Homo sapiens: one gene and its partners. The protein of the gene in region 1 interacts with the protein of each later gene in a pairwise test. Each region holds a gene or a part of one and is shown in the gene's direction. Other genes may lie near its edges. The genes, in order: RNF4, TRIM38, UBTD2, ZCCHC17, SCML2, HNRNPCL2 and DDX39A.

Region 1 (4,221 bases):
TTGACCAGGCTGGTCTTGAACTCCTGGCCTCAAGTGATATACCTGACTCAGCCTCCCAAAGTGCTAGGATTACAGACGTGAGCCACCATGTCCGGCCTCCTTGGTTGCTTTTTAACAGCAAATAATCTTTTTTTTTTTTCCAAGTTGTGTGCTTTCTCCAAATTTGTTTTTTTTCTTCTTCTTCTTCTTTTTTTTTCCCTTGAAACAGGGTCTCACTTTGTTACCCAGGCTGGAGTGCAGTGGTGCCATCACGGCTCACTGCAGCCTGTACCTTCTGGGCTCAATTGAGCTTCCTGCCTCAGCCTCCTAAGTAGCTGGGACTATAGGGGTATGTCACCATCCCTGGCTGATTTTTTATATTTTTTTGGAGAGACAAGGTCTTACCGTATTGCCCAGGGTGGTCTCAAACTCCTGGGCTCAAGTGATCCTCCCACCTTGGTTTCCCAAAGTGCTGGGATTGTAGTTGTGAGCCACTGAGCCTGACCTTGGGTCACTTTTCATGAGCATTTTCAGTATGCCAGTCTCTGCTCTGGCTAGAAGCAATGCAGTGGTAGAAAAGAGACTGGCAACTCTCTTTAAGGAATCGAGATTCTTTAAGGGGAAGGTTATTGAAAATGTTACTTAGGCTGTTTTTCTTAAATTTCCAAAGATTGTCTCTTAGTAAGGTTGATTTTTCTGGAATCTTTTTTTGGTCTGTTTCTATAATGTATGAATAAGTCACACTATGTGTGTTTTATTCTGTATCCTGCCTGGTTTTCCATTTATGAGACTCTGTAGAAAGGATGCTTGATAAAGGCTTTTCTGGAAGGAAGGAAGGAAGAGGGAGGGAGGGAGGGAAGGAGGGAGGGACAGAACCCTGTAGATCTCTGGGTGTAAAGGACACAGGAGGCACACTGTTGGAATAAGTGAGCCAGCCCAATTCCATAGAAAGAAAGAAGAGCTCAGAAAAGCCCAAACATCATATCCAGGAATTAGCCAAGATGGGTTGGCTACTCAACTACAATGTGATTGTCCGCACCAGTCTTCCCGACTTTCCTGCCAGTGCCGCAAGTAACAGGCATCAGTAACTGCATGATGTGTGTAGCTGTTGGACATTGAGTAGCCTTTTGTGTGCACAGTGCTTGGAGATGGCTGTTTTTCCAGTGGAGCAATGTGCAGTGCTGTGAGCTGTAAAGTTGTCTAAAGCAAGTGTGTCTTGGTGCCCTTGGCTGGGTGAACATTCCTAGAAATGCCAGGGGCCAGCCTGAGTGCACGGGACCCAGTGATTCCTATACTTGCTTCTTTCATGCAGAGGTGTTCTGAGGCTCACCTGTGCTTTTAGAAGCACAAAGGGGCTTCGAGTGACCAATCAGATGTGCCTGCTGCAGGTCCACTCGTCTCTAAATGCTCTGACCTATGGACTGTTGTCCATAGTTGAGAAGAAGCTAGAGTAAAATAAAATGTATGAGTGAGTGAATCTTTTTCTTTTTTTTTTTCTTTTCTCTTTTTGAGACAGGGTGTTGCTCTGTTGCCCAGGCTGGAAGGCAGGGGCCCGAGCTCAGCTCACTGTAGCCTCAACCTCCCAGGTTGAAGAGATCCTCCTGCCTCAGCCCCAGGAGTACTGGGACTACAGGTACACACTGCCATGCCCAGCTTATTCTTTGTATTGACGGGATCTCGCCGTGTTGCCCAGGATGGTCTCGACCTCCTGAGCTCAAGTGATTCATCCCGCCTTGGCCTCCCAGGGTGCTGGGATTGCAGATATGGGACACCATGCCCAGCCGAGGAAGTGTGAATTTCTGATCTTGGGCTAGCTTACCACAGTACTAATTAAACTATTCAGTTCAGGGGATTAGTTAATTGTTGTTATTTCAGTTTTGGTTTTTCACTTATCTTAAAAGCCTCTCAAATAGATTAGAGGCCCCAGAGCTTGTGTTACACCTCTATCCATCTCTCAACTCATCTGGTAGGCATTTATGAAGCGCTGGTACTCTTCCCTCTGCACCTATCTTCTGTGCTGGGCAAGTACTGTGCCACCTGCAGGGCCATAGCTGTGATTTAGGTTCATTACAGAGTTCTTGAGATGTCTGCAGGGATTCTGGAATTTGATGTGACTCGGCCACTGGGTGGAGGGAACACCAGTAATCAATACTGTATTGTCCACCAGCTGAGAGGCCAGGCTGTGGTCGTTGGTTTTGTTTTTTTGTTTGTTTGGTTTTTGTTTTGTTTTGTTTTGTTTTTTGTTTTTGTTTTGTTTTGTTTTTGAGACGGAATTTCACTCTTGTTGCCCAGGCTGGAGTGCAGTGGTGCAATCTCGGCTCACCACAACCTCCACCTCCCAGGTTCAAGTGAGTCTCCTGCCTCAGCCTCCTGAGTAGCTGGGATTACAGACATGAGCCACCACATGCCCGGCTAATTTTGTGTTTTTAGTAGAGGCGGGGTTTCTCCATGTTGGTCAGGCTGGTCTCAAACTCCCGACCTCGGGTGATCTGCCCGCCTCTGCCTCCCAGAGTGCTGGGATTACAGGCATGATCCACTGCCCCAGGCCTTTTTTTTTTTTTTTTTTTTTTTTTAATTAAAGACAGTTTCACTATTGTCGCCTAGGCTGGAGTACAATGGATCTCAGCTCACTGCAGCCTCCACCTCCCGGGCTCAAGTGATTCTCCTGCCTCAGCATCCCAAGTAGCTGGGATTACAGGTGCCCACCACCACACCCGGCTAATTTTTGTAGTTTTAGTAGAGACAGGGTTTCACCATGTTGGCCAGGCTGGTCTCAAACTCCCGACCTCAGGTTTTCTGCCCGCCTCTGCCTCCCAAAATGCTGGGATTGCAGGCATGAGCCACCGGGCCTGTGCTTTTCTTTTTTTCTTTTTGAGACAGTTTCGCTATTGTTGTCTAGGCTGGAGTGCAATGGCGTGACCTCGGCTCACTGCCCCCTCCACCTCCTGGGTTCAAGTGATTCTCCTGCTTCAGCCTCCCAAGTAGTTGGGACTACAGCCACGCGCCACCACACCCAGCTAATTTTTGTAGTTTTAGTAGAGACAGGGTTTCACCATGTTGGTCAGGCTGGTCTCGAACTCCTGACCTCGAGTGATCCGCCCATCTCGGCCTCCCAAAGTGCTGAGATTCCAGGTGTGAGCCACCGCGCCCAGCCTGTGGTGTTGTTCTTATACTGAAGACTCATCTGGAAGCTGTTTTTCTCTCATTAAAAGCGGGGACAGTCAGAATTGTTACCAGTGAGGAAACACTCTGGCGACCCTGTTCTTATGCACCCCAGTAGTTGTGTGTGTATCACCTGCTGCTTGCCAGCAGCCCCTGGGCTCAGTGCTCAGGACAGGCCTCAGTTTGGTACCATCCACAGGCAAGCTGGGTATGACTCACAAGAGACCATAAAGACTCAGTACGCGCACTGTCATGGCTGGGGCACTGGGAGTGTCATACCCTTTCCAGGTGTCCACACCTAATTAGTGGGTCATCTTGGCAGAGGGTGGGGGCATGTTGGAGCTGTAGAAAGCTGGGGTCATTTCTAGCCACAGAAGAATTTGCTTTTGCTCCCAGCTAAACCCAAGGCTTTCCCCAAGGGCCAGCACTGTTACCAGAGCCTCCTTTTCTAGATTTCATGCGGACAGTACATTGTGCCGGCCCTGGTAAGTTTGGTCCTGATGGTGAGGTTGACTGATTGTCCCCAGATTTCCCTTTTCACCGTCTGCAGTCTCCTCTAAGAGGAAAGGGGAGCACGTTTCAGTGGCTCCACGTATGTGGATTATATTCTCATCCTCAAATCAAAGACCTTTATACTCAGTCCTGCATTCTTCCTGCATGGCCGTTTGTGTATGTCAGGATGCCATTTGGGAAACAAAATCCACTCTAATTATTCCTAAGCTTAGTGGATTTTAACATGGAAGGAGAAGCCTAAATCAGCAGTGTCTGGGCTGGGTCTCCAGGAATAACTCTTGACCTCGAAGCATTGACCCACCTAGGGAGCTGCTGTGTCTGCTCCATGAAGAAGGTCTGGAGGCGGCATCCACCCCCTGCACTCATATCTTTGGGTTCGTGTAGACAGTACTGCAGACCCTTTCTAGGGAGGAGAGGCCTGGGCTCAAGACATAGCAGCCTCTGCCAGAAGTGTTTCTTCAGGATGCAGCTGTGCCTGCCAGTGCCAACACCCTCAGCAGCTCAAATCGGCCTCCATCCCCTGCCCTGCCAGTAGCATGAGTGTGTCTGTTTGAGGGAACTCGGTTC
Region 2 (4,221 bases), on another chromosome or scaffold:
GTTCTATATCCAACTTTTTCCTGGCAGGACTCTAGTGGTGGACATAGCTCAGGCTCTGGGTCAGCAGATGAGATTGCAATTGTTGCTCCACCACCTGGCAGTCATAGCCCTTTGGGCAAGTTATTTTACCCCTTTCTTAGTCTCATTTTCTACAGCACAGAAATGAAGTTTAAAATCCTACCAACTATTCAGGGTTGCCAAGGGGATCAGTATGTTCCTGCACATATAGCCTTTAGCATGCTCTCTAGCAAAAAACAATGAGGACTCTATAAATATTCACTATTATTCAAATATATCTTAGAAGATTGGGATTCCCCCTAGGTCCCTAATGAAGAGTCAAATTGAATAGGCTTCACTTATCAAATTTTTCCTTCAGGAAAAGCTCCAGAAAGCTGTGACAAAACTGAAGCAACTTGAAGACAGATGTACGGAGCAGAAGCTGTCCACAGCAATGCGAATAACTAAATGGAAAGTAAGAATCTGACTTCATTGATCTCAAGCTATTTTCCATTCTAGAGCTTAGGCATAGGGGATGATTGAGGAAAAGCACAATGAGGATTTATTCTCACTAAACCAGATTGAAAAAATGAAACCCAAGGAAGAAACCATTATTTGTACTTATGCCCCTGGTTCCAGGTTTACATCCATGAGTATTTAGCACCAATCTTTCCATCTTTAAACTGTAGTTGGCTGGGATTCCTGATACTTCAGTCAGAAGAAGCAGAATTAGTATGACTATTTACCTAGAAAAAGCATCGAGTGGGTCTCAAACTTTAAATACGTCAAAATAAACCTGGTTTGCAGGCCTCAACTCATTACCCTGGCACTTTTACCACAGTGGAGCATCTGGCTCTCAACTTTACAGGTACAGAAACCAAGCTTTGTGAACACTTAGAAAACAGGATCACTCCAGATTGAAATTCATACTACTCTAGCTCATGAAGCTGATGAAAGAAATATACTTTATTTATTTATTTATTTTTAAATTATTACTATTTTTTGAGATGGAGTCTTGCTGGAGTGTAGTGGTGCGATCTCAGCTCACTGCAATGTCCACCTCCCGGGTTCAAGCAATTCCCCTGCCTCAGCCTCTTGAGTAGCTGGGATTACAGGCATGTGCTACCATGCCTGGCTAATTTTTTGTATTTTAGTAGAGACGGGGTTTCACCATGTTGGCCAGGATGGTCTTGATCTCCTGACCTCGTGATTCACCCACCTCAGCCTCCCAAAGTGCTGGGATTACAGGCGTGAGCCACTGCACCCGGCCTATACTTGATTTATAAGTACATCACAAGTAATGCAACAACCTACACACTTGCAACTACAAACTTTCAGATTATTTCCGTGGCTGACTAACCTCCACATTATCAGAGCCACATTCTTTTATGGAAATATTTAGGTTTGTGCAAAAGTAATTGCGGTCTTTGCCATTAAAGTAAAGGCAAAAACCACAATTACTTTTGCACCAATCTTTATATTTATATAATTCACTAGCTTGCAGTAAAATCCCACAAGCTGATTACCAATTTTCTCTCTTTCAGGAGTCCTCTCTAACCTCTACCCTGATCTTTGTTTGTGGATGTTGCTCTTGAGCTCCTGAGTACACTCTTACTTCCCCCATTTCTAGGATCTTGGGCAATGGGGAAGACCTTGATTGTAACTAACATATATGAAAACCCGTCTATACAAGAGTTAAAGCTGCACCTGTCTCCTACACAAAAATTCCACCTCATCCTAAGTCAAAGACCCTTCTTCTATATCATAGTCATCAAAACACTGTATGAATTTATTTTTATTTTTTAATTTTTATTTTTTTAAGATAAGTAGAGAGTTTATTTGGGCCAAGTTTGAAGACTGCAATCCAAGAACATAGATTCAAATTGCCCTGAATACACACTCCCACTGCATTAATTTAGACAGCACTAATGGAAATTGCAACTTTACATCTCCTCAGATGAGAGTTTCACTTGATTTCTGTCAGTCTTACACATAGGAATGCTTAAGATGACCCTAGGGTAGTAGAACAGTATTTCTCAGTTAACCATAATAAATGCCTGTCACACTCAAAGCTCCCCCTGCCAAGAATTATGGACCCTCTTACCAGCCTGGTTGTCTTAAAATCCAGTCTGGGTGATGTTCATTATAAGCTTTTACTTCAAGAAAATCGCTCCAACTCAGAAATCTAACTTCTTAAATCATAAGTAAAAACCTCTTTTTATCCTTGTAACTGATAAAGTGTTTGAACTTGGCCCTAGTTTCACAATTAAATTATCTAGCACTCCTAACCCAGCTTTCTCCTGTGTCTTGGCTGAAGAACAAGAAAATTAATTGGGTGACTATAAGGAATCTGAGGCAACCTCTTCCACATCTGAGTGCCTGCCTCCCACACATGACTCTGCAGCAGGAAACTGGGGACATTCTTCCAGCTTCAGTGACTCATGAGAAAATAATGTCCCAGTGGCTGATTGTGTGTGTGTGTGTGTTTGTGTGAAAATATATATAACACTTAAGCATTTAACCACTTTTAAGTATATAGTTCAGTAGAATTAAGTGCTTTTACATTGTTACATTGTTGTGCAACCATCACCATTCCCATCTCCAAACTGCAACTCAGTTTCATCTTTCATCTTCTAAACTGAAACTCACTACCCATTAAACAATAACTGTCCATTTTCTGGTCTTGCCAACACCTTGTAACCACTATTTTACTTTCTGTCTCTATGAACTTAACTACTCCAGATGCCTTGTATAAGCAAAGTCTTACAATATTTGCCCTTTTGTTTCTGGCTTATTTTGCTTGAATGTCTTCAAGGCTTGTCATGTAGTAGCGTGTGTCAGACTTTCATTCTTGTTTATCCATTCATCCATAGATGGACATTTGGTTTACTTCCACCTTTTGACCATACTTTCTTGACTCCAGGAGAAGGTACAGATTCAGAGACAAAAAATCCGGTCTGACTTTAAGAATCTCCAGTGTTTCCTACATGAGGAAGAGAAGTCTTATCTCTGGAGGCTGGAGAAAGAAGAACAACAGACTCTGAGTAGACTGAGGGACTATGAGGCTGGTCTGGGGCTGAAGAGCAATGAACTCAAGAGCCACATCCTGGAACTGGAGGAAAAATGTCAGGGCTCAGCCCAGAAATTGCTGCAGGTGAGGCTGTGTACTTGGAGTAGGGAAAAAAGGTATGTTATAGTGCTATTAAAGGAGAATGGTAAGGAAGCATGGGAAGATAAAGTAATGTTTCTTTTAGATGTACATCAGTGCCATCAGGCTGGCCTTCACTAATTTATAGGGTACCTTTATGTCAATTAGAAAAATAAACTTCTGAGGGAACACAGCTTGGCCAAATGAAACCACGGGATAACATTTACCACTGTTTGCCTCCTTGGCCCATGTGCAGAGAACCCTGGTTGTTGACTCTCTCCTGAAATACTCCACTAGGTGACTGATGGGTGATGAAGTGGGGCAGCCAAAATGAGTGATAACCTTTTCCCTGATTTGCTTGTAGAACCCTTGCTCCAGAGCTGTTATGGTACAATCTACAGCTTTATCTGTAGGAAGATAAACATCTGGAGCCATTAATTCTGGTTCTAACTAACAGGATTGGTGACTATACTGTAAGGCTGAGTGTATAGCATGATTGCTTTACCACTGTGTGATACCTGCTACCACCATCTTAGTGGCAGTGGCCCAGTCTCAGGGCTGTGCACAGATTCACCACTAAGGACCTTTATGATAAGTGTTCTCTAATCTGGGCTCACTGTGAAGGAAATCCGATCACCAAAAGCTAGTCCTTACAGAGGGAGCATGGACAAAGCTCCTGGCCCTCAGACTTCAGCAAGGATGAGAATAGATGCAAATGTTGATAAACATCCTGCCATGCTGAATCTCCCAGAAGCTGGTAGGAATTATTCCATCTGGGTATCCATCAATACCTAAGACTGGTGGGAATTACTTTGTTTGAGTATCCATCAATATCTAAGACTAAGACTAGGGTAACTCTCTTTACTTCTTCGGGTAAAGCAAAGAAGAATAGCCCTGCATGACAAGCCCCATGAAATACCGATGTTCCCATGCTCACCTTTTCTTTTTGTTTCTTTATAGAATGTGAATGACACTTTGAGCAGGTAAGTCCTGTTTGAATGCAGGAGGGGAGGGGTGTGCGTATATAGAAATGAATGGAATGCACCTCTGAAGAAATCTCTCGCCTCTGCTTATTC
Region 3 (4,221 bases), on another chromosome or scaffold:
TTGCAAGTGTCCTTTTAGTTTAGCACCGTCTGTTACGGAAGGGTTCTAATACTCCATTTTTCCCCTCACGCTATTGTCTTATGGAAACTGATGCTTCCAGTTTTCAACCGGTTAAAGCTGTTGCTTGAGTCATATCTTGATATTTTCACCTTATCCATGCATTATGGCCTCTTCTTTCTTCATTTGAAGCGTTCCATCATTAAATCAAGGTTTTCAAAGAGGAACCCAAAACAGGAAAACAATTATAATCATACTTAACTTCAGAATTGATTGTTTTTTACCAATGTCAAAATGAGTTTTTGGTAGAATGCTTTAAATTATGTAGTAAAAATATTTAAAATTATGTGTTATTTAGATCTGAGAAACAAGCCTTACTTGGGTTTTCTGTGTGTTAGATCTGTTTATTTGTTACAGAGTGGGAAGAAGTGTTTAAAGATTACAAGGAAAGATAAAGAGTGGGTGAATATGATTAAGAGGTTTCTGAGAAAAAGATGACTTTTGGACACGTTTTGAAGTAAATGTGGATTGATGGGGGAAAGGATATTTTCTGAAATAGATTGTGTGGTTTTTTAAGATTAGATTGCTTTATTAATTTTTTATTTCTCATATGTTAATTCATAGTGCACTAAAGATGGTTGGTTACCTGCAGTTTAAGGATAGAGAAGCAGAAATTTGGGGAATAAAAGATGTTTCCTGTCTTTAAATTCTTCACTGTTAGAGCATGGTACCTAGTCCTATATGCTATGTATGATTACCAAGCATCTCTCTTTTGGTATCAGCAGTCAGAAGATGTGTGAAGCAGATAAAACTGAAAGTTTAAGAGCATAAAATGAAATCTAGTTGAGTATGTATATATTCTACATCTTACAAAAATGTTTGGCTTGGTACAAACATGAGGTACTTAGCTGCCAGGCTGATAATCTATGTCCAACTACTGCATTTTCAGAAATACAGGTTTGTGGCACCACCTGAACTCAAAGGATAAGATTTGGTGAACAAATGCCTAGCAAGTGTACTCTGATAAGGCACAGGAAGTGCATGACAATCAGGGACATTTCTTTAACATTTAAGGAAGGGATTGGGAAGTTATGAAAAGAAGAAAGACAGCCTGTATATTTTTGCCAAAGGACTTAAAGATGTTATTTCATATAGTACCTCTAAGTTCATTTTTACTTATTTAGCAAACATTTATTTGCAGTTTTATTGTATATCATGCATTATTATGAGTGGTTTATGAATATGAACTTAAGTCCTCTTAACAAACCTAAATATTTTCATGTTTTCACGAGAGGATAGTTCAAATGCTTTTGCTAAATGCTAATTTTTTTCCCAGTTATTTATTTAACAAAGGTTAGTCATTTAGTTTAACATGAAGCTTCAAGCCTCAGATTTTGTAGTGAAAATTCTGCACTGCTCTGTGGTTTCACTAAAGTAATTATGTTACAAAGATTTAATCATTTTTTAACAGTGGACATTCTATAGACAGATATTCTATATTATGTTTATAATACAGGCAGAAATAGGCAAATAAAAGTAATCTTCCTTCATGTCACAAATTACCGTGAAACTTTTGACAGCATGTAGATTTGAAAATGCATTGGGGGCCTGTCGCAGTGGCTCATGCCTGTAATTCCAGCACTTTGGGAGGCTGAGGCGGGCGGATCATGAAGTCAAGAAATTGAAACTATCCTGGCCAATATGGTGAAACCCCGTCTCTACTAAAAATACAAAAATTAGCTGGGCATGGTGGCGCGGGCCTGTAGTCCCAGCTACTCGAGAGGCTGAGGCAGGAGAATCGCTTGAACCCAGGAGGCGGAGGTTGCAGTGAGTCGGGTTGCACCAGTGCACTCCAGCCTTGGCGACAGAGCAAGACTCTGTCTCAAGTATATGAATAAAATTTAAAAATTAAAGAAAATGCATTTGGAATGATTTTCCTTAAGCAACATAAACGCATCATCTGTTCTTTTTGTGGGACTTTGTTCATCTATGCTTAGTACAAACGGAGAGAGGTGAAATGAACCTACCTCACATTTGTAAGGAAGGTGTTTTACAATTTTTCCAAGGTACTTTGTACCCTTATTATGATTGTTTTTCTGTTGGCTTCCTCTTTTCAAAGTCCTCTTCCTTTCATTTGCTTTAGTTTTAGGTCCTGAGATTCTTCTGTAGAGGTTTTGTTGTTTTTGTCCATGCTTTGTAATTCTCTCAGAATGACAGGAAAAATTATACTGAGTTATCTCTCATGCATTTAATACATATGAGGCCAGATAATTCTGTAGAAATACTCAGACCCAAAACTTTATTCAGATAAATATCTTACTGAGTCTACCTGCTTACTGTGCCATCTTCCACTTCCTGGTCAGTAAGCTGAGTGTTGTCTGTAAACTGTCTCTAACTCATCTAAATGATAATGTAGCAGAAAATAAAATCAACCTTGCATTCCATCGTGTTGGTGCAATCAGTGGGTTGTGGTTATCAGACCAGATTCTGAACATCTTCTAGAGAATTATGCTCTAGCTGCATTGTCTGTATTATTTGGAAGAGGTAGGGAAAAATCATTAGTATAGACTGTGTTTCTCGCATTTGAATTAAATGTAATAGGCACATCTGTAGTGTTACTCCCAGTAGACACTCAGTACATATTTGTTGATTAAATAAAGAGACTTGGATTCTGTTTCCAGCTCTGCTACTAAATGGATGGGTTTCCTATTCTGCTTCCTCACCCTTTCAGAACTCACCTGTTTTGCATTTCACTAGGACAAGTTAGAGGGCAAAAAGTATTTGAGTTAATGCTGAGTGTTTTAAGTGGAAAACAGCTAGTCTTTTGGTGTGCCACCCTGAGGGGAGAGGACAGAAGAGACCTGACCTGGCAGTCTTTATTGAGAATATAGCCTGGAGAGTAGAGATAGCCCAGGGTCTGGAGTCATTTTATTTTCTGTTTTGCATAGTCCAAATTTCATCTGGCCCTGGGCCAATGAGGGAGTAGTCAATTTCATGGATGCTTTAGAACCAGTTTGAGAGTGATTTCTTTAAAATTGGTATTCTTTCTGCAATTAAATATAGAACATTGAATTTTGACACACACCCTCTCTCCTTCCCACTCGCTGTGTCATTTATTTCCCACCCACTCTTTTCCAACACTCTTCTTATCTTTTCATCCAGCTTCAATTTTCTTTCTATCTTCTATCCCATCTATCAAACTATTCCCTATCTATAGCACTGTATAATCTTACAGAGCCATAAATAAGAATGGCTCTGTAGGTCAGTATGACCCATGGAAATAGATCACAGATAATACACCAGATGGTTATCTGGGTGCAAGGATGCTGCATCAGGCTTATTCCAGCGCTACTACTACATAACATTGTCTAAGGGGAGATGCTGCCACTTGCCCTCTGTTTTCTTCTTCTCTTGGGTTGAAACTAGGGTAGGGTATCATAGTTCTTCTGCTCCTTGTGGTTCGGAGCTAATCCCTTGGCCTAGCATCAAAGATTATCTCTTTTACTCCCAGTTCCTCAAAAAAACTAAAGTACTGATTCTACCCTTTGTAAATTAGTTCCTGTTTGAGTTCCAGAGAAAGGTATTTACAGTTCCTTGACTAAAGTCCAGAGAGTAGAATGCTAGAGGAAGCATTCCTCTAATCAGTTTGTTCATGATTCTGGTGGTTTGGCTCTTCTTTCTCTGGGCACTGAAAAGCAATCTTTTACCTCTTTGGATTTTCTCAGTTCCTACTTCCTGGTTTCATGTGTCCAAGCTACTATTGCCGTTTGCTTCCCCAAGTATCTTGCCTCTCTTTCGTGGTGTCTCTTGACTCTCATATCCTGCTCTTACAGTCTGATGAAACACTTACCTTCTAGGCAGTTCTTTTAAAATGAACAAAACAAAACTTTCATTGTATTAAAAAAAAATTTTTTTAGAGCAGTTTTAGATTCATAACAGAATTGAGAGGAAGGTACAGAGATTTCCTATGTACTCCCAGTGCCTACACATACATAGCCTCCTTTCCCTGATTATCAGCATCCTCCACCAGAGTGGTACATTCATTACAACTATAATTCTCTGGGGTTCTTTAGTTTTGTTTTGTTTTGTTTGAGATGAGGTTTCACTCTCGCCCAGGCTGAAGTGCAGTGGCATGATCATGGCTCACTGCAAACACAACCTCCCAGGCTCAAGTGATCCTCCCACCTCAGCCTCCCAAGTAGCTGGGACCACAGGCACATGCCA
Region 4 (4,221 bases), on another chromosome or scaffold:
GATTTTTATTCATTCAGAGTAATTATTTATGTTCATTTTCTCCAGAATTGAAGTAATCCTCTATTATTATTTATTATCGAAAATAAATGAAAAGGTTAACTTGTAATACTATAACCACTGTTGGCATTTCAAGTCATTTCTTTCTAATTTTTAAAATGTTTTTAAAGCATTTGTAATCATACTGTATAATTTTGCATTATGCTTTTGTTATTTAGTATGGGAAAATGCTAGATACCTACAGTACTTGATACATAATAGGCACTCAATAACTATTTACTAAAGAAGGAATTATTGACTTGTTTAAAAATCTTTTGAATGGACCATCAAGCGACTATACCATAATTGACCTAATTGTTATCCTTTGTTGTTTCTAAATTTTCCTGTCTTAAAAATACATTGAATATTTTGATGTAAATCACTTTTCCTGAAGCATATAGTTTTTCCTATGTATAAAGTTATTTTCTTAGGACAGGTTCCCAGAAGCAATTAGGGGTCAAATAAAGTATTAGAACTCTTGGTTGCAAGGGGCAGAAACTTAATTGGGAAACATTTTGGCCAATCTTGTCAGGGGCTTCCAGGATAACTCTCAGTTATGTTTCTCAGTTATGTTTCTGCCCCTTGTCTCTTTCCTCTATTGCTGGGACTTCAGCCTTTGCTGTATTGGGTGCTCAGTTTATACTCCCAGGGCTTTGCTTCTTGTTTACCAGTGCTCTTCTTTGCTTTTCTCTGGCAGACTCTTGCCATCTGGTGGTAAAGATTGGCTTTGGCAATTTTTTGTAGTTTACAATCCTGATTTGTATATGTAAAATGTAATAAGCAAGGTGGTTCTCCCAAGGAAAGGATTTTGGACAGACAGGAAAAGGATGTTTGCTATAAGTGTTTTATTAAATGTTATTAAAATATTATTTGATTTATTTTTGAGACAAAGTCTCGCTCTGTCACCTAGGCTGGAGTGCAGTGGTGCCATCACAGCTTACTGTAGCCTTGACTTCCTGGGCTCAAGCCATCCTCCCACCTCAGCCTCCTGAGTATCTAGGACTACAAGCATGCACCACCACATCCTATTAATTTTTCTGTAATTTTTCTAGAGATGGGGTCTCACTGTATTGCCCAGGCTAGTCTTGAATACCTGGGCTCAAGCAGTCCTCCCAAAGTGCTGGGATTACAGGCCTGAGCTTCCATGCCCAGCAATTATTTCATTTTAAATTATTTTTATTAAATGTGTAATAGTTTATTAGTATTTTATCATTCTTGATAGCCATTGATAGTGACTTCCAAAAGTTTATTCTAGCCTTAGTAATAGTTCTTATTTTACTATCCTTTCACCACATTGAATATTATTTTCTAAATACTTTGCTAATTTAATGGATTAAAAATAGTAGCTTGTTTATATTTCCTTTTTTAACTTAACGTCTATCATAAATATTTTTTGTAATTAATTTAAATGGCTGTTTACTTTTTTATTCCACAGATTTACTATGTTTGCCATGCTGTTTTCCAGTTATTGTTCATTAGGGTTGTTTTATGGTTCTTATATATTTTTTAACCTCTGTAGGTAATAATACCGCAAGTTATTTATGTATTTATGTATGTATGTATGTATTTATTTATTTGTGAGATGGGGGTCTTGCTCTGTCACCCAGGCTGGAGTGCAGTGGCGCAATCTCAGCTCACTCCAACCTCTGCCTCCTGGGCTCAAGCAGTGCTCCCACCTCAGCCTCTTGAGTAGCTGGGATCACAGGTTTGCACCACCACGCCCAGGTAATTTTTGTATTTTTGGTAGAGATGGGGTTTTATCATGTTGCCCAGGCTAGACTGCAAGTTATTTCAGCTCTGTAAGTTTTTTGGCTCTTGTGAGTTTTTCCTTTGAAAAAATTCTATTGATGATATTCTTGCATCAAAGATAAACATCTTTATCTTTTTGCTTTCAAATAATTTTACCAACTTATATTTCTATCAGTATTGTGTAACTACAGATATTTTATCACATCTTTACTAATATGGAGCATTACATTTTTTAAATTTTTTGTTTTTTATTTTTAAAATAAGATTTACAATATTTAAAAAATAGAGATGGGGTCTCGTTATGTTGACCAGGCTGGTCTCAAACTCCTTGCCTCAAGGTATTCTCCCATCTTGGCCTTGCAAAGTGTTGGGATTACAGGCGTGAGCCACTGTGCCTGGCCTATTTTATTTACTTATTTTTTTGAACCAAGGTCTCACTCTGTCACCTGGGCTGGAGTGCAGTGGTGCAGTTGCAGCTCACTGCAGTTTCAGCCTCCTGGGCTCATGCGATCCTCCCATCTCAGCCTCCTAAGTAGCTAGAGCTACAGACACGTGCCACCATGCCTGGCCAGGTTTTTTTTTTTTTGTATTTTTTGTAGAGACTGGGTTTTGGCATGTTTCCCAGGCTGGTCTTGAACTCCTGAGCTCAGGCAATCTGCCCGCCTCAGCCTTCCAAAGTTCTGGGATTACAGGCATGAGCCACTGTGCCCGGCCACTTTGAGCATTATTTTAAGAATGTTTGTTGGTTGATTGGGTATAAAAAGCAGTCTCAATTTGCAGTTTTAAGTTTCACGCTTTTCAGTAAAAATTTTCATTTTTCCCTTGCATTCCCCAACTCTTACCTTCTTATCCAGTTTAGAGTATAAATACCAGATATGCCCTCTGCTTTACGTTATTTCTTCTTCTTGTGCCCAGGTCTGGTCCATCGAACTCATATGTCATCCTGTCGGGTGGATAAGCCCTCTGAGATAGTAGATGTTGGAGATAAAGTGTGGGTGAAGCTTATTGGCCGAGAGGTAAAGTTCTGTGCGGCTCCCTTGTGGTTAGAAAGGATTAGGAAGAGCTGGGATTTTTGATATTTTATGATAGTGAGTGTGTAAATTTTGTTAATTGTGCTGATAATCTTATTTTTAAATCCTGCCATTAGAATCTATTCTGAATTCAAACCTTCTGGTAGACTGTCCTGCAAACTCAGAAGGAATGATATGAGCTATAAAAGTGTGGTGCAATAAGTGCACGTTTGTAAAACTTCCCTCCCTGAAGTTTACCCATAGGGTGGGCCGGAGGAGAGAAAAAAGAACCAAAAAGAGAGAAGGAAAGTTGACCTATGGGACAAGTGTTTATCACAGACTTCAAAGAATACCTGCCAGATACACTTCAGTTTGGGACAAAACAAAAAGAACACAGATAGTTTACAGTCATTTTCCCTAATATCTGGCACCATGCAATGTGCAGAAAGTGAAAAAAATCTGAAGGACCCTGTTACTCACTTGAGGGTATGAGGGCTGTGGGTGTGGGCCGACCACAGGAGAAATAAGAGCATACACTGAGTCCTGTTCTACCAGAGACAGCACAGGAGATAGGCATGAAAGAACTATTATTCAACAATATTTAAGTGCTTAATATGTGCTAGGTTTGGGAGATATAAGAGCGAACCAGACAAAAATGATCCCAGCTATTATGGAGTTAATATAGAATATAAGTAGAGACAATTTTTCTTTCTTTTTTGAGACAGGGTCTCTCTTTGTCACCCAGGCTGGAGTACAGTGGTGCCATCACGGCTCACTGCAACCTCAGCCTCCTGGGCTCAACTGATCTTGCCACCTCAGCCTCCTGAGTATCTGGGACTACAGGCACGCACCACTAAACCTGGCCTTTTTTTTTTTTTTTTTTTTAATTTTTTTGTCAAGATGGGGTCTCACTGTGTTACTACCCAGGCTGGTTCAAACTCCTGGGCTCAAGTGATCCTCCTGCCTTTGCCTCCCCAAGTGCTGGAATTACAGGCATGAATTTCCATGCCTGACCAAGACAAATATACATAAAATAATTGCAAGTTATATTAAGTGCTATATTGGGTTCAAACACTATTGGAAGAAGATTTCTAGTTGTCAGGAAAGGACTCTTTGAGGAGATAGAATATGAGCTGAGACCTTAAAGAAAAGGAACTAGTCATGGAAGACTTGGGATAGGAACATTCCAGGCAGAGAGAATAACTGATGCAAAGACCCTGAAGTGAAGAAGTGCTTCATGTGCTGCGGGAAGCAAAAGAAGACCAATGTGACAAATGTCTTCATGCTTAAAGAAGCTCTAGACCAAGTCCAGAAGGAGATCTAGTCTCTTGAAGTATTCAAAAACCTATTCTGGACTTAGGGATATCTCAACAAATCACTATGCTGAACTTACCTGGAAGAAAAACTTTTATTTTCTGCCTGGTTA
Region 5 (4,221 bases), on another chromosome or scaffold:
TCTTTTTTTGTTGTTGTTGTTGAGACGGAGTCTCCCCCTGGTTGCCCAGGCTGGAGTGCAGTGGCGCGATCTTGGCTCACTGCAACCTTCGCCTCCACCTTCCGGGTTCAAGCGATTCTCCTGCCTCAGCCTCCCAAGTAGCTGGGAGGCACCCGCCACGATGCCCAGCAATTTTTTTTTTTTTAGTAGAAACGGGGTTTCGCCATGTTGGCCAGGCTGGTCTGGAACTCCTGACCTCAGGTGATCTGCCCACCTCGGCCTCCCAAGTGCTGGGATTACAGGAGTGAGCCACTGCGCCTCGCCCGTTTTGTTCTTTTTTAATGCTCTCCAAGATCATATGGTAGTAGAGCTTCACTTAGAATCTGTAGTGCTAGGGGGCAATCACTGAAACATCTGGTCTGTTTAATTTTGAAGCCGTGGATTTCGGTTTTCACTTTTGACAAAGCTATTCTGTATTAATAAATTTGAGCACAACTATGACTTCTAGTTTTATAACGTGCCATTTATTGAGTGACTTACATATATGCTACTTTATTTAGCTCTCAACATATCTAGTACCATGTACATTACTTTTCCCGTTTTATAAATGAAGGAACTGAGGCTAAGAAAGTGAATGACTTGCTCAGGGTCACATAGCTAGTAAGAGGTAGAGCCATACTGGAAGTAGGCAGATCTGACTCTAAAGCCCACATTCTTTTTTTTTTTTTTTTTTGAGATGGAGTCTTGTTCTGTTGCCCAGGCTGGAGTGCAGTGGTGCGATCTTGGCTCACTGCAACTTCCACCTCCCGAGTTCAAGCAATTCTGCTGCCTCAGCCTCCCAAGTAGTTGGGAATTACAGGTGCCCACCACCACATCCGGCTAATTTTTGTGTTTTTAGTAGAGATGGTGTTTCACCATGTTGGCCAGGTTGGTCTTGAACTCCTGACCTCAGGTGATCTGTTCACCTCAGCCTCCCAAAGTGCTGGGATTACAGAGCCACCGCACCTGGCCCTAAAGCCCACATTCTTAACACTCTCTCTGATGCATGATTTTCAATGCTGGTAGTGCTTGCTTCACATCATCTGGAAGTGGAATCAAACCCAGTATTTTCTTTTAGATGAAACGGTCTCTTAGATCTATTAACCAAAAGCAAGGTGCAAAATGTTACATGTGACATGCTTAATACCACATATAATATGTATACATACATATAGAAATGCATACACACATATGTAATGGTGGTACACTGGAGCTGGCTCACACCGGCTTGGGAGAGCCAATTGTGTACATCTTTTCCCAATTTCATGGTTGGTGGTTTTACCTTGGCACCTTACAGTCAACCATGGTGGTCATATTTACATCACGGAAATCTGCAAACGCTGTCAGTCAGGTTTTTTGTTGTATTTTCCAGAAAGCTGGTTGTTAAACATTATCAGCACTCTGTAGGTTTTTTTGTTTTTTGTTTTCTGCAAGGGGGGAGTCATCTAAGTATAATATCTTTTGAAGGAAATGTAAGAAGCTGGTAAACGTAGATTCTTCCAGGAAAGAGAACTGTCAAACCCAATATTTTTATAGTGAGGAAATTTAGCAAGAGTATAGAAAAGCCTCATGAATGATGAGAATTAAACATCATGTGAATTACTAGTTTGTTCACTACTACTGTCAAGTCTTTTTCTCAGTGTCTTGACAGTCTGGCTGGCACAGTGAAATGATACGTTCAAGCCAGGCAATGTGCTCTGCTTTCTGATCTTCTCTTCTAACATTATAATATGTCATGAAAACTAAGTGAGGAAGGACAGCAAGAGTCTGTAGAAAATGTAGGTCATTAAAATAATCCATATTAGTGACTGTACTGATGACTGGTTTATTGCTTTGTTCTGCCACCATCTTCTTGACACTCTGAATAGAGATCTAATAGTCCATTGAGAAACTACTCTGGTTACCACATTTTTTTCTTTCCATAAAGCATTGCAAGGGTAAAATTCTGTTTGACTGCACACTAAACCTTTAGCTCCCCATGAATAACAAAGAAGTGCCTTCACATTAATGGAATAAAGTGGTGAAAACATATTTATTGAATAAATTTATATTAGAGACAGATGGGTAGACTTCGCTATTACTCTAAAACAATTTCTTTAGTTATTTCTAACGTCCACATTTTTAGAATCACTGTGCTGTAGTCCACATTACAATGAGAGTATCTAGGTTATAATTTATTTCTGAGCCATTATTATCAGGATATCGTCTTATTTTTTATTTTTATGCTGGTCATGAAATGTAGATCAGGATTTTTGAATCTACTCTTTTGGAAGTTTTTTTTTTTTTTCTTTTAAGAGGCATGGAACTAAAACCCATTTTAATCCTGAAAGTTGTATATACTAAAAGTTACATTGTATATGCTTTAAGAAACTATTTTGCACATGTGTTTTTTCCAGATGATTTCCACTGGGAGGAGTATTTGAAAGAGACTGGGTCTATAAGTGCTCCTTCAGAGTGCTTCCGTCAGGTATGCCAAGATTCTGTAGCTGTTAGTTAATGTAAACTATTAACTTGTTGGAGGACGTCTGTGTGATTGTTAGATTCTGGTAGTGTGAGGAGATAGTGGGATTGTGGTAGTGCCTCTTAAGAGCCAGATGGTCTCTTTGCATTCATTAAGAACTTACTCTATGTCAGGTATAATAAGCTTTATGATTGCCCATCTGGCAGGAAAGGCAGACATATAAATAAATAATTATGAGAAGTGTGATAACTCCATACTGGAAGGGCTCACAGGAGCGATGCTATTTGAGATGGTTGGAATGGGAGGAAGGATAGTCCAGGCAGAGAGAACATCCAAAGCCAAGGCACATGGGCATGAAAGAATCTGAGTATTAAGGGATGGCTTGGGGTGGCTGGAGCACAAAGTGGATAGAGGCGATAATGTGGAAATGAGGTTAAAGGTGTGGGGGCATTTAAACTGTGCTGAGGAGTTGGACTTCATTATAGGCAGTGGTGAGCTGCTGGTTGGCTAATTTCAAGGGGAATGGTCTAATCAGATTCTTACTTTAGAAAGCCACTCGGTATATTTTAGAGGCTGTATTTGGGTTGCCTGGAAGTGGGCAGATGAGTGAGAACAGCAGCGGGTAGTGTTTTTATGCTGCATGTCAAGCCAAGGAGAGAATTTTGAAGATCTTTTCCTTGACTCTTACAGCTCTGACCTCACTCATCATCCACTGTGACTGTTATTTAAAATGTTCCTCAGGTATTCTGGTGACATAGCTGTCCATGTGTCTTCTCTTATAGTTGATGCATTTTAACCAAATTTTATTTATATATATAGTCTCAGATTCCACCTGTGAATGATTTCAAAGTTGGTATGAAATTGGAAGCCCGTGACCCTCGCAATGCCACTTCAGTATGTATTGCTACGGTTATTGGAATTACTGGGGCCAGGTTACGGTTACGACTGGATGGTAGTGACAACAGAAATGATTTTTGGAGGCTTGTCGATTCCCCAGACATACAACCTGTTGGGACATGTGAAAAGGAAGGAGACTTACTTCAACCTCCACTAGGTAAGAAGAAAGTTTTAAAAATAGCGTATTCTTTCTAATGTGATATTCAATAGAAATGGCTTTAAGTGGCCTTTTAAAATTTATTTTCTTGGGCATTCTTGCAAATAGATGGTCAGGTGGTTGCTGTGGAGAATGTATGATGAGAGAGGAAATCAGCACCATCTGTTGTGGAGTTTTGCTTAAGTACATATTTGGCATATGTGTGTAGAAGTTTTCTCCACTCCAGGGCAAGACTCATGCTAGGTCTTCAAACTTGAAATGTCAAAACCAGCTCTACTAGATTACATATGCAGATTCAGAACTCCTTCTGGGGAAGAACTTTGTAGCGTTTGATACAAGGCACATGCTCTCTCAATATTGTCCACTGAGCCATTCAGCAATTTTGGTATGGGGATAAGCCTAGGGGAAGGGTATGATTCCACATTCAGGTTCCAGTTTCAAACTCAAGAATTTCATTTCACCTACAGTGGGAAGAAATCAGAGCGAGAGGGACAGGAATTAGTACCTTTAGGTCTTTGAAAAGGAGAAAATGGAGATTTTAGCAAAGATTTTAAGGTACAAAATATGTACTTTAATTTTGGCCACATTTTTGAAAGGTAAAAAGGGTGTAACTAATTTGGGGCAACATTTTTCTTTTTAAAATGTAAGCATACCATGATACTCTGTAGGAAAGAAATGATTTAGTTTA
Region 6 (3,841 bases), on another chromosome or scaffold:
CCCATTAAAACACCCAGCTCAACCATGCCCATCCTCTACCCTCACTTCTCTTTGTAATTTTGACATGATTTTATTACAGGACCATCAGGTTCCTATGCCTGCTGCACAGTAGCTGACCAATATTCTGAGACAGCAGTGTTTGCAGCAGACAGTTTAATGATCACAGGGTGGCTAAATGAGAAGCTAGGAGGATATCCTCAAATTCATCTCCCCAAGTAGTACTGAGGGTTTCCAGTGGATCCTGGATAGCAAGGGGCTGGAAAGTTGGTGTAGAGGTAAGAGGGATGAAGTCATCAGGATGTCAAAACTGCATTCTTTGGTGAGTTGGTGCCTTGCAGAGCCCTTCAGATCAGCTGGCATCAGTAGTTTCACTGACATGCAGAACCTGAAAGAATATCTCAAATGAGAAAGTTAATGTTTTACAAGGCTTAAATTGTTGTCTGCAGGGTAGTTAAGGGGAACTGTAAGCTAAGGTCTACTTGATTTGGGGACAGTAAGCTGCCAGCAACCATGAGGAAGAAGGTCAGAGAGCAAGCTGACCTCATGGTGAATGCTGAATGCGCTGCAAGCTTGGTTTATTTTTGTTTCTCCCCCTCCCTTCTTCACTGATTAAACTTATAAAGTTTACAGGTATCATTTCAATTTCTTCCAGAGAAGACTTAACCTAAGCCCTGAGACCACTCAAGCCCTCAGTGGCACCTCTCTTCCACCAGCACGAGTGAAGAAACTGCTACCTTAGGTGATATAAAACCCACAAGACCATTCCATACATGGAGATCTTTATTCTTATTTTGTAGGGACGACTCCTCTGTGTTTATACAGCTATTTTAACTAGAAATATTTTTATAAATTTTATAATTTTGATGTGGCCAAAGATCTCCCCACAACACTACTTTCAGGTTTTATTTTTCTGTCTAATGTCTGGAACAGATCAACCCCTTCCCTGCCTCACATCAGGACTTGAAGGCGAAATAGCAGTAAAATTCCATCAGTGTTTGTGGATTTCATGAATGAATGCATTTTTTTTGACAAAATCTCCCTCTGTCGCCCAGTCAGGAGGGCAATGGTGTAATCTTGGCTCACTGCAAACTCAGCCTCCAGGGTTCAAGGGATTCTCCCACCTCAGCCGCATGAGTAACTGGACTACAGGCAGCCACCATCGTGCCTGGCTAACTTTTCTATTTTTGTAGAGACAGGGTTTCACCATGTGGGCCAGGCTGGTCTTGAACTCCTGACCTCAGGTGATCCACCTACCTTGGCCTCCCAAAGTGCTGGGATTACAAGTGTGAGCCACCTCACCTGGCCTTGAGTGAATGAATTCTTGATTTCCACTCTATCCCTAACTCTGTCAATTTCTTAATTCATAAAATGATTATGCATATGTGATATGAATGGATATCTCGTTCAATCCATTAGTCTTCGGACAGTCAAAAACCCAATCAGGATTAACTGAGTGGAGCTTCAGAAATGCAATCAGATATCGCTTTTTGATTGGAAGCTAGCAGCGGATACGTGGAGGGGCGTGGGTGGGAGTTGTGATTAGAAAGGTCAATAAAAGCTTCTAAAGACCCACAGGACAAACTCAAAGTCTTCAAGCCTGGAGTTCCTGCTTGGCTCTTCCTGAGGTCTGAGCACCTTCTAAACTACAACCAGATCTGGTAAGTCACTAATTTCTGTAAGGACACTCCCATGTGACCTACAGTCAGCCGGTCTAGAACGGTGACAGTGCAGCCTACGATGGCATAGAACTATATCATGTCTTTTTTTCTTTTTTTCATATGAACACTTTGAAGCTTTGATTTTTTTTTCTAAATGCAATTTTGTCGTGATTTCAAAAATGTTGTTGTGCTTTTCTTTACATCATTTCAGAATTCTTGTTGGCAGCCATTTTGTGAAGAGACGAAGACTGAGCTGTTTTGGCTGCATTTCTGGCCTCGAGCCGCAGTCAGTTTCTCCCCGTAGAACCCGGCAGTAGGAGACTTAGAATCGAATCTCTTCTCCCTCCCGCCTCCTGTTTTTGGCTTTTTGAGAAACCTTATCATCCAACACAATGGCCAGCAACGTTACCAACAAGATGGATCCTCACTCCGTGAACTCCCGTGTGTTCATTGGGAATCTCAACACTCTTGTTGTCAAGAAATCTGATGTGGAGGCGATCTTTTCCAAGTATGGCAAAATTGCGGGCTGCTCTGTTCATAAGGGCTTTGCCTTCGTTCAATATGATAAGGAGAAAAATGCCCGGGCTGCTGTAGCAGGAGAGGATGGCAGAATGATTGCTAGCCAGGTTGCAGTTATTAACCTGGCTGCAGAGCCAAAAGTGAACCGAGGAAACGCAGGTGTGAAACGATCCGCAGCGGAGATGTACGGCTCCTCTTTTGACTTGGACTATGGCTTTCAACGGGATTATTATGATGGGATGTACAGTTTCCCAGCACGTGTACCTCCTCCTCCTCCCATTGCTCTGGCTGTAGTGCCCTCGAAACGCCAGCGCATATCAGGAAACACCTCACGAAGGGGCAAAAGTGGCTTCAATTCTAAGAGTGGAAAGCGGGGATCTTCCAAGTCTGGAAAGCTGAAAGGAGATGACCTTCAGGCCATTAAGCAGGAGTTGACCCAGATAAAACAGAAAGTGGATTCTCTCCTGGAAAACCTGGAAAAAATTGAAAAGGAACAGAGCAAACAAGAGGTAGAGGTGAAAAATGCTAAGTCAGAAGAGGAGCAGAGCAGTAGCTCCATGAAGAAAGATGAGACTCATGTAAAGATGGAGTCTGAGGGGGGTGCAGAAGACTCTGCTGAGGAGGGGGACCCACTGGATGATGATGATAATGAAGATCAGGGGGACAACCAGCTTCATTTGATCAAGAATAATGAAAAAGATGCTGAGGAAGGAGAGGATAACAGAGACAGCACCAATGGCCAGGATGACTCTTAAGCACATAGTGGGGTTGAGAAATCTTATCCCATTGTTTCTTTACCTAGGAGCTTGTCTAACAACAAATTTTTCACCAGATCCTCTCCCTTAGTATCTTCAGCACATGCTTACTGTTCTCCCCATCCTTGTCCTTCCCACATTCATTAATTCATATTGCCCTGCGCCTAGTCCCATTTTCACTTCCCATGACACCCCTAGTAGTTTTCCTAAGTCTTACCCTGTAATTTTTGCTTTTAATTTTGACACCTCTTTATGACTTAACAGTAAAAAGGATGTATGGTTTTTATCAACTGTCTCCAAAATAATCTCTTGTTATGCAGGGAATACAGTTCTTTTCTTTCATACATAAGTTCAGTAGTTGCTTCCCTAACTGCAAAGGCAATCTCATTGAGTTGAGTAGCTCCTGAAAGCAGCTTGGAGTTACAAGTATGTGTGTTACACCCCATATTAGTGTGCTGTGTGGGGCAGTTCAACAAAAATCTAACAATGTATTTTTGTGAATGAGAGTTGGCATGTCAAATGCATCCTCAGAAACATAATTGGTGTTATAGTCTTCAAATGTGTTTTCTAAAGTTGATACCGTGGGTTATTTTTGTGAACAGCTTGATGTTTGGGACCTTTTCCCTGAAAATAAACAACTCTTTATTAAACCAGCAATTTAAAGAAAAAAAATTCTTGGTGGGAGCAATGACTCATGCCTGTAACTACAACACTTTGGGAGGCCAAGGTGGGAGGATCGTTTGAGCGCAGGGGTTCGAGACCAACCTGAGCAACATGGCAAAACCCTATCTCTACAAAACATTTGTTTTGAGGGGCGGGATGGAGTCTCACTCCGTTACCCAGGCTGGAATGGAGTGGCACAATCTCAGCTCACTCCAACCTCTGCCTCCCAGGCTCAAGCGATTCTCA
Region 7 (4,221 bases), on another chromosome or scaffold:
CACTGCACTCCAGCCTGGGTGACAGAGCGAGACCCTGTCTCAAAAAACAAAAAAACAAACAAACAAACACATGCCCTGTGTGGCTGACCAGCTCTTCCAGCTTTGTCTTCTGCCCTGACGCCAGCCAGCTAGTCCTACTCTGCATACCCCAAAAGGCTCTGGTGCTTTTCGGACTGACCTTTCTTGGCTCCTGTTTTCCCTGCTGCCTGGGAAGTGACCCCTTCAGATTGCCTGTTTGAAGGGTCAGATAAAGAGACATGTTCAACTCTGCCTGAACGCCTTTATTCTAGTTCCATTTATTCAGCCATTGCTATGGAGTGCTTATTAGCTGTTCTCACAGGGCAGGGCTGACTGGAAGCGGTGCTGTTTTAGTTGGGGCTGTGAGGAAATGCCTTTCTGGAGCAAAGGAGGCCCAAAAGAAGTGGGGGATTTGTGACCCTTCCAGGCAGCAGGAACAGCAAGTGCAAAGGTGCTGAGGTGTGTTTGAGACACGGCAGCAAGGCTGGCGAGTGAGGGGCAATGGGGGAGATGAGGTATGAGTATAGAGGAGTCGGGTTAGGAGGGGCCCGGTAGGCTGGCTTTGTGAGGACTCGAGTTTTTTTCTAAGCACAGTAGGAACCCATTAAAAGTTTTGAGCAGAATAGTGATGTACTCTTAGGTTTGTTTTTTTTTTTGAGACAGAGTCTTGGTCTTGCTCTGTCGCCCAGGCTGGAGGGCCATGGTGTGATCTCGGCTCTCTGCAACCTCTGCCTCCTAGGTTCAAGTGATTCTCCTGCCTCCAAGTAGCTGGGATTACAGGTACCCGCCACCACACCCGGCACATTTTTGGTATTTTTAGTAGAGATGGGGTTTCACCATGTTGGTCAGGCTGGTCCTGGACTCCTGACCTCAGGTGGTCCGCCCGCCTAGGCCTCCCAAAGTGCTGGGATTACAGGTGTGAGCCACCGCGCCTGGCCGTGACTTAGTTTGATAGGGTCTTTCTGGCTGCTCTGGGGAGGGGCTGGGGGATGGCAACAGGGAAACCAGGGAGGAGGATATTGGCTTAATTCAGGCAAGAGATGATGGCACCTACATGTCCAGCTGACAGTGGTTAAGCAAAATGTAGTATGTTGGTGAGATGGAACATTAGGTGACCATGGAAAGAAATGAGGCCAGGTGTGGTGGCTCACACCTGTAATCCCAGCACTTTGGAAGGCTGAGGTGGGCGGATCGCCTGAGCCCACAAGTTGGAGATCAGCTTGGGCAACATGGTGAAACCCCATCTCTGTTACAAATACAAAAATTAGTGGTGGCGGGCGCATGTAGCTCCTGCTACTAGGGAGGCTGAGGTGGGAAGATCGCTTGATTGAGCCCGGGAGGCAGAGGTTGAAGTGAGCTTTGATTGGGCCACTGCACTCCAGCCTGGGCAACAGAGCAAGACCTTGTCTCAAAGAGGGGGGAAAAAAAAGGAAGGGAGTACTGATGATGTGGTAGAGCACACTGTGCTGAGTGAAAGAAGCCAGACACAAAATGTCACAAATTATAAGATTTCATTTATGTGAAATGTCCACAACAACAGGCAAATCCATAGAAACAGAAAGCAGATTAGTGGTTGCCCGGGGCTGGGGTGGGGTGTTTAGGGTATGGATACGTAAAGGGTACAGGAGCTTTTATTTCAAGGTGATGAAGTATTCTAAAATTGCACATGTGGTAGTGGTTGCACATGTCTGTGACTACACTAAAAACCACTGAATTATCTGCCTTAAGTGGTGAGTTGTATAGCATGTAAATATCTCTGTGAAGCTTTTCTTTTTTTTTTTTTTTTTTTTTAGGCTGGAGTGAAGCGTGATTTCAGCCCATCACAACCTCCGCCTCCCAGGTTTAAGCAATTTTTCTGCCTCAGCTTCCCGAGTAGCTGGGATTATAGGCGCCTGCCACCATGCCTGGCTAAATTTTTGTATTTTTAGTAGAGTTGGGGTTTCACCATGTTGGTCAGGCTGGTCTCGAACTCCTGACTTCAGGTGACCCACCCGCCTTGGTCTCTCAAAAGTGCTGGGATTACAGGCGTGAGCCACCGCGCGCAGCCTGTAAAGCTGTTCTAGTTAAAAATAATAATAAGGCCAGGCGCGGTGGCTCACACCTGTAATCCCAGCACTTTAGGAGGCTGAGGTGGGTAGATCATGAGGTCAGGAGTTTGAGACCAGCCTGACCAACATGGTGAAACCCTGTCTCTACGAAAACTACAAAAATTAGCTGGGCATGGTGGCAAGCACCTGTAATCCCAGATACTCAGGAGGCTGAGGCAGGAGAATCTTGAACCCTGGAGGTGGAGGTTGCAGTGAGCCGAGGTTGCGCCACTGCACTGCAGCCTGGGTGACAGCAAGACTTCATCTCAATAATAATAATAATAATAATAATAATAATAATAATAATAATAATAAAACAGGTGATAGCAGCTTGGGGCCAGCATGGTAGCATAGGTGAGAACTGGCCAGAGGGCCTTGGTGGGATTCACTGCCTCATGGACAGGGAGGTTGAGAGAGAGAAAACAGCCATTGAGACAATGGAATTGCTGTTTCTGAGCCGGGAATGAGTGACAGCGAGGCCAAAAGTGGCCTAGGATCCTCAGCATCCAGCCTCAGGAAGAATTGTAGCAGCTGTCACCCTCTGCTCCACCCCCCACTGGAGTCTGGGGTAGGGGAGGAGGACGAAAGACAATTGTCCTCATGTTTGGGTCCCTTGCACCCAGCAGGCACTTGGTATGCATTAGATTAATAAAGCAAAGAGGTAGGCAGACTTTGTATTAATTCCATTTTCCATCTTCTCAGCTTTATTTTTATTGGCCCAGGCCCAATAGGAGGCCTTTCATGAGAGCACTTAATTATTCCCCTGTGCAGACCACAGAGAGTGGGAGAAGCTGGGGCTGGACAGATACTGCTTGCTCTCTCGCAAACTCAGTTCCCACCAGCATCCTGGCAGCCCCACCCCTGGGATCTTTGGGCTCCTGCCCCATGAAAGCCCAGTGGGTTCCTTGGGGAGTGATAGGGAGGGGGCTTCTCTGGGCTGAGTAGTCTGAGGAGGTTCACTGGAGCTGAGGCTTGCGTGTGGAGAAGGAGGCATTTGTGCAGAGACCTGGGGGCAGAGCATTCCTGGCGGTGACAGCCAGGTTCAAAGGCTTGGGGCAGGGGCTCCAGGGGTCTGAGCAGCTGAACAAGGCTGGGGGTGGTGTGGGATGAGGTGAGCAGGGGTCAAACCAAGGGGATTGCCTGGCCTGTGGTGAGAGTTGGGATTTTAACTCTGTGAGCCATGGGAAGCCCTTGGAGGTGGAGGGTGTTCTGTCTGTGGGTGTGGCCAGAGGGGCATGGGGGAGAGATGGGGTAGCTTGGGGGTGGGGAGGTGGAGACAGGGCGAAGCTGCGAGGTGCAGCCCAGGTAGAGCTGATGGGCTCACTCATGGAAGGAGGCGGCAGAGAATGCCATTTGAATGAAGCTTCATCATCCTTCTGTGCCCACTCGCGGGACCCTGCCTCTCTCTCTTCTCAGCATCATGGCAGAACAGGATGTGGAAAACGATCTTTTGGATTACGATGAAGAGGAAGAGCCCCAGGCTCCTCAAGAGAGCACACCAGCTCCCCCTAAGAAAGACATCAAGGGATCCTACGTTTCCATCCACAGCTCTGGCTTCCGGGACTTTCTGCTGAAGCCGGAGCTCCTGCGGGCCATCGTGGACTGTGGCTTTGAGCATCCTTCTGAGGGTACGCCTTCTGGGTGTTATCCTCTTGCCCAGGTCCTCACCAAGACAAGACCAGCCCTGCCCGCCCAGAGCGGTGCCGCCTCCAGTTTGCCGTGGGTGAGGGAGGGGCCCGTCTGTCCCGCGGATCAGTTGTGCCCAGCGGGGCCTGTGGCTGCCCTCGGCAGTGGGGCGTTCTGCTTTGACCAGGCGGATACCCCAGCCCTGCAGGTGTCTGTGGCCTTGTCCGGACTCGGCCTCTTCTGATTGCCCTCACTGTGGGCCCCCGGTCAACTGGTGAGGATCCTGCACGGGGGTGCATCCAGGTTCTCGTCCCTCACGCTCTGCTTCTCCTGCAGTCCAGCATGAGTGCATTCCCCAGGCCATCCTGGGCATGGACGTCCTGTGCCAGGCCAAGTCCGGGATGGGCAAGACAGCGGTCTTCGTGCTGGCCACCCTACAGCAGATTGAGCCTGTCAACGGACAGGTGGGTGGGCTCCTCCCTTCCTGGCC

The links.
Region 2: the proteins of RNF4 (region 1) and TRIM38 interact in binary tests that used the Homo sapiens proteins (3 or more experiments, as listed by UniProt).
Region 3: the proteins of RNF4 (region 1) and UBTD2 interact in binary tests that used the Homo sapiens proteins (3 or more experiments, as listed by UniProt).
Region 4: the proteins of RNF4 (region 1) and ZCCHC17 interact in binary tests that used the Homo sapiens proteins (3 or more experiments, as listed by UniProt).
Region 5: the proteins of RNF4 (region 1) and SCML2 interact in binary tests that used the Homo sapiens proteins (3 or more experiments, as listed by UniProt).
Region 6: the proteins of RNF4 (region 1) and HNRNPCL2 interact in binary tests that used the Homo sapiens proteins (3 or more experiments, as listed by UniProt).
Region 7: the proteins of RNF4 (region 1) and DDX39A interact in binary tests that used the Homo sapiens proteins (3 or more experiments, as listed by UniProt).

What each region holds. Positions count from the first base shown.
Region 1 is NC_000004.12:2,506,385-2,510,605, forward strand, and holds part of RNF4 (E3 ubiquitin-protein ligase RNF4), read left to right. Parts: intron 1-4,221. UniProt on the Homo sapiens protein: E3 ubiquitin-protein ligase which binds polysumoylated chains covalently attached to proteins and mediates 'Lys-6'-, 'Lys-11'-, 'Lys-48'- and 'Lys-63'-linked polyubiquitination of those substrates and their subsequent targeting to the proteasome for degradation.
Region 2 is NC_000006.12:25,968,949-25,973,169, forward strand, and holds part of TRIM38 (E3 ubiquitin-protein ligase TRIM38), read left to right. Parts: intron 1-376; coding exon 377-472; intron 473-2,920; coding exon 2,921-3,151; intron 3,152-4,105; coding exon 4,106-4,128; intron 4,129-4,221. UniProt on the Homo sapiens protein: E3 ubiquitin-protein and E3 SUMO-protein ligase that acts as a regulator of innate immunity. Acts as a negative regulator of type I interferon IFN-beta production by catalyzing 'Lys-48'-linked polyubiquitination of AZI2/NAP1, leading to its degradation.
Region 3 is NC_000005.10:172,234,773-172,238,993, reverse strand, and holds part of UBTD2 (ubiquitin domain-containing protein 2), read left to right. Parts: intron 1-4,221.
Region 4 is NC_000001.11:31,334,475-31,338,695, forward strand, and holds part of ZCCHC17 (zinc finger CCHC domain-containing protein 17), read left to right. Parts: intron 1-2,700; coding exon 2,701-2,801; intron 2,802-4,221.
Region 5 is NC_000023.11:18,323,171-18,327,391, reverse strand, and holds part of SCML2 (sex comb on midleg-like protein 2), read left to right. Parts: intron 1-2,414; coding exon 2,415-2,485; intron 2,486-3,298; coding exon 3,299-3,533; intron 3,534-4,221. UniProt on the Homo sapiens protein: Putative Polycomb group (PcG) protein. PcG proteins act by forming multiprotein complexes, which are required to maintain the transcriptionally repressive state of homeotic genes throughout development.
Region 6 is NC_000001.11:13,114,610-13,118,450, reverse strand, and holds HNRNPCL2 (heterogeneous nuclear ribonucleoprotein C-like 2), read left to right. Parts: upstream 1-1,596; 5' UTR 1,597-1,658; intron 1,659-1,869; 5' UTR 1,870-2,050; coding exon 2,051-2,932; 3' UTR 2,933-2,963; downstream 2,964-3,841.
Region 7 is NC_000019.10:14,412,525-14,416,745, reverse strand, and holds part of DDX39A (ATP-dependent RNA helicase DDX39A), read left to right. Parts: intron 1-3,521; 5' UTR 3,522-3,525; coding exon 3,526-3,733; intron 3,734-4,067; coding exon 4,068-4,195; intron 4,196-4,221. UniProt on the Homo sapiens protein: Helicase that plays an essential role in mRNA export and is involved in multiple steps in RNA metabolism including alternative splicing. Regulates nuclear mRNA export to the cytoplasm through association with ECD.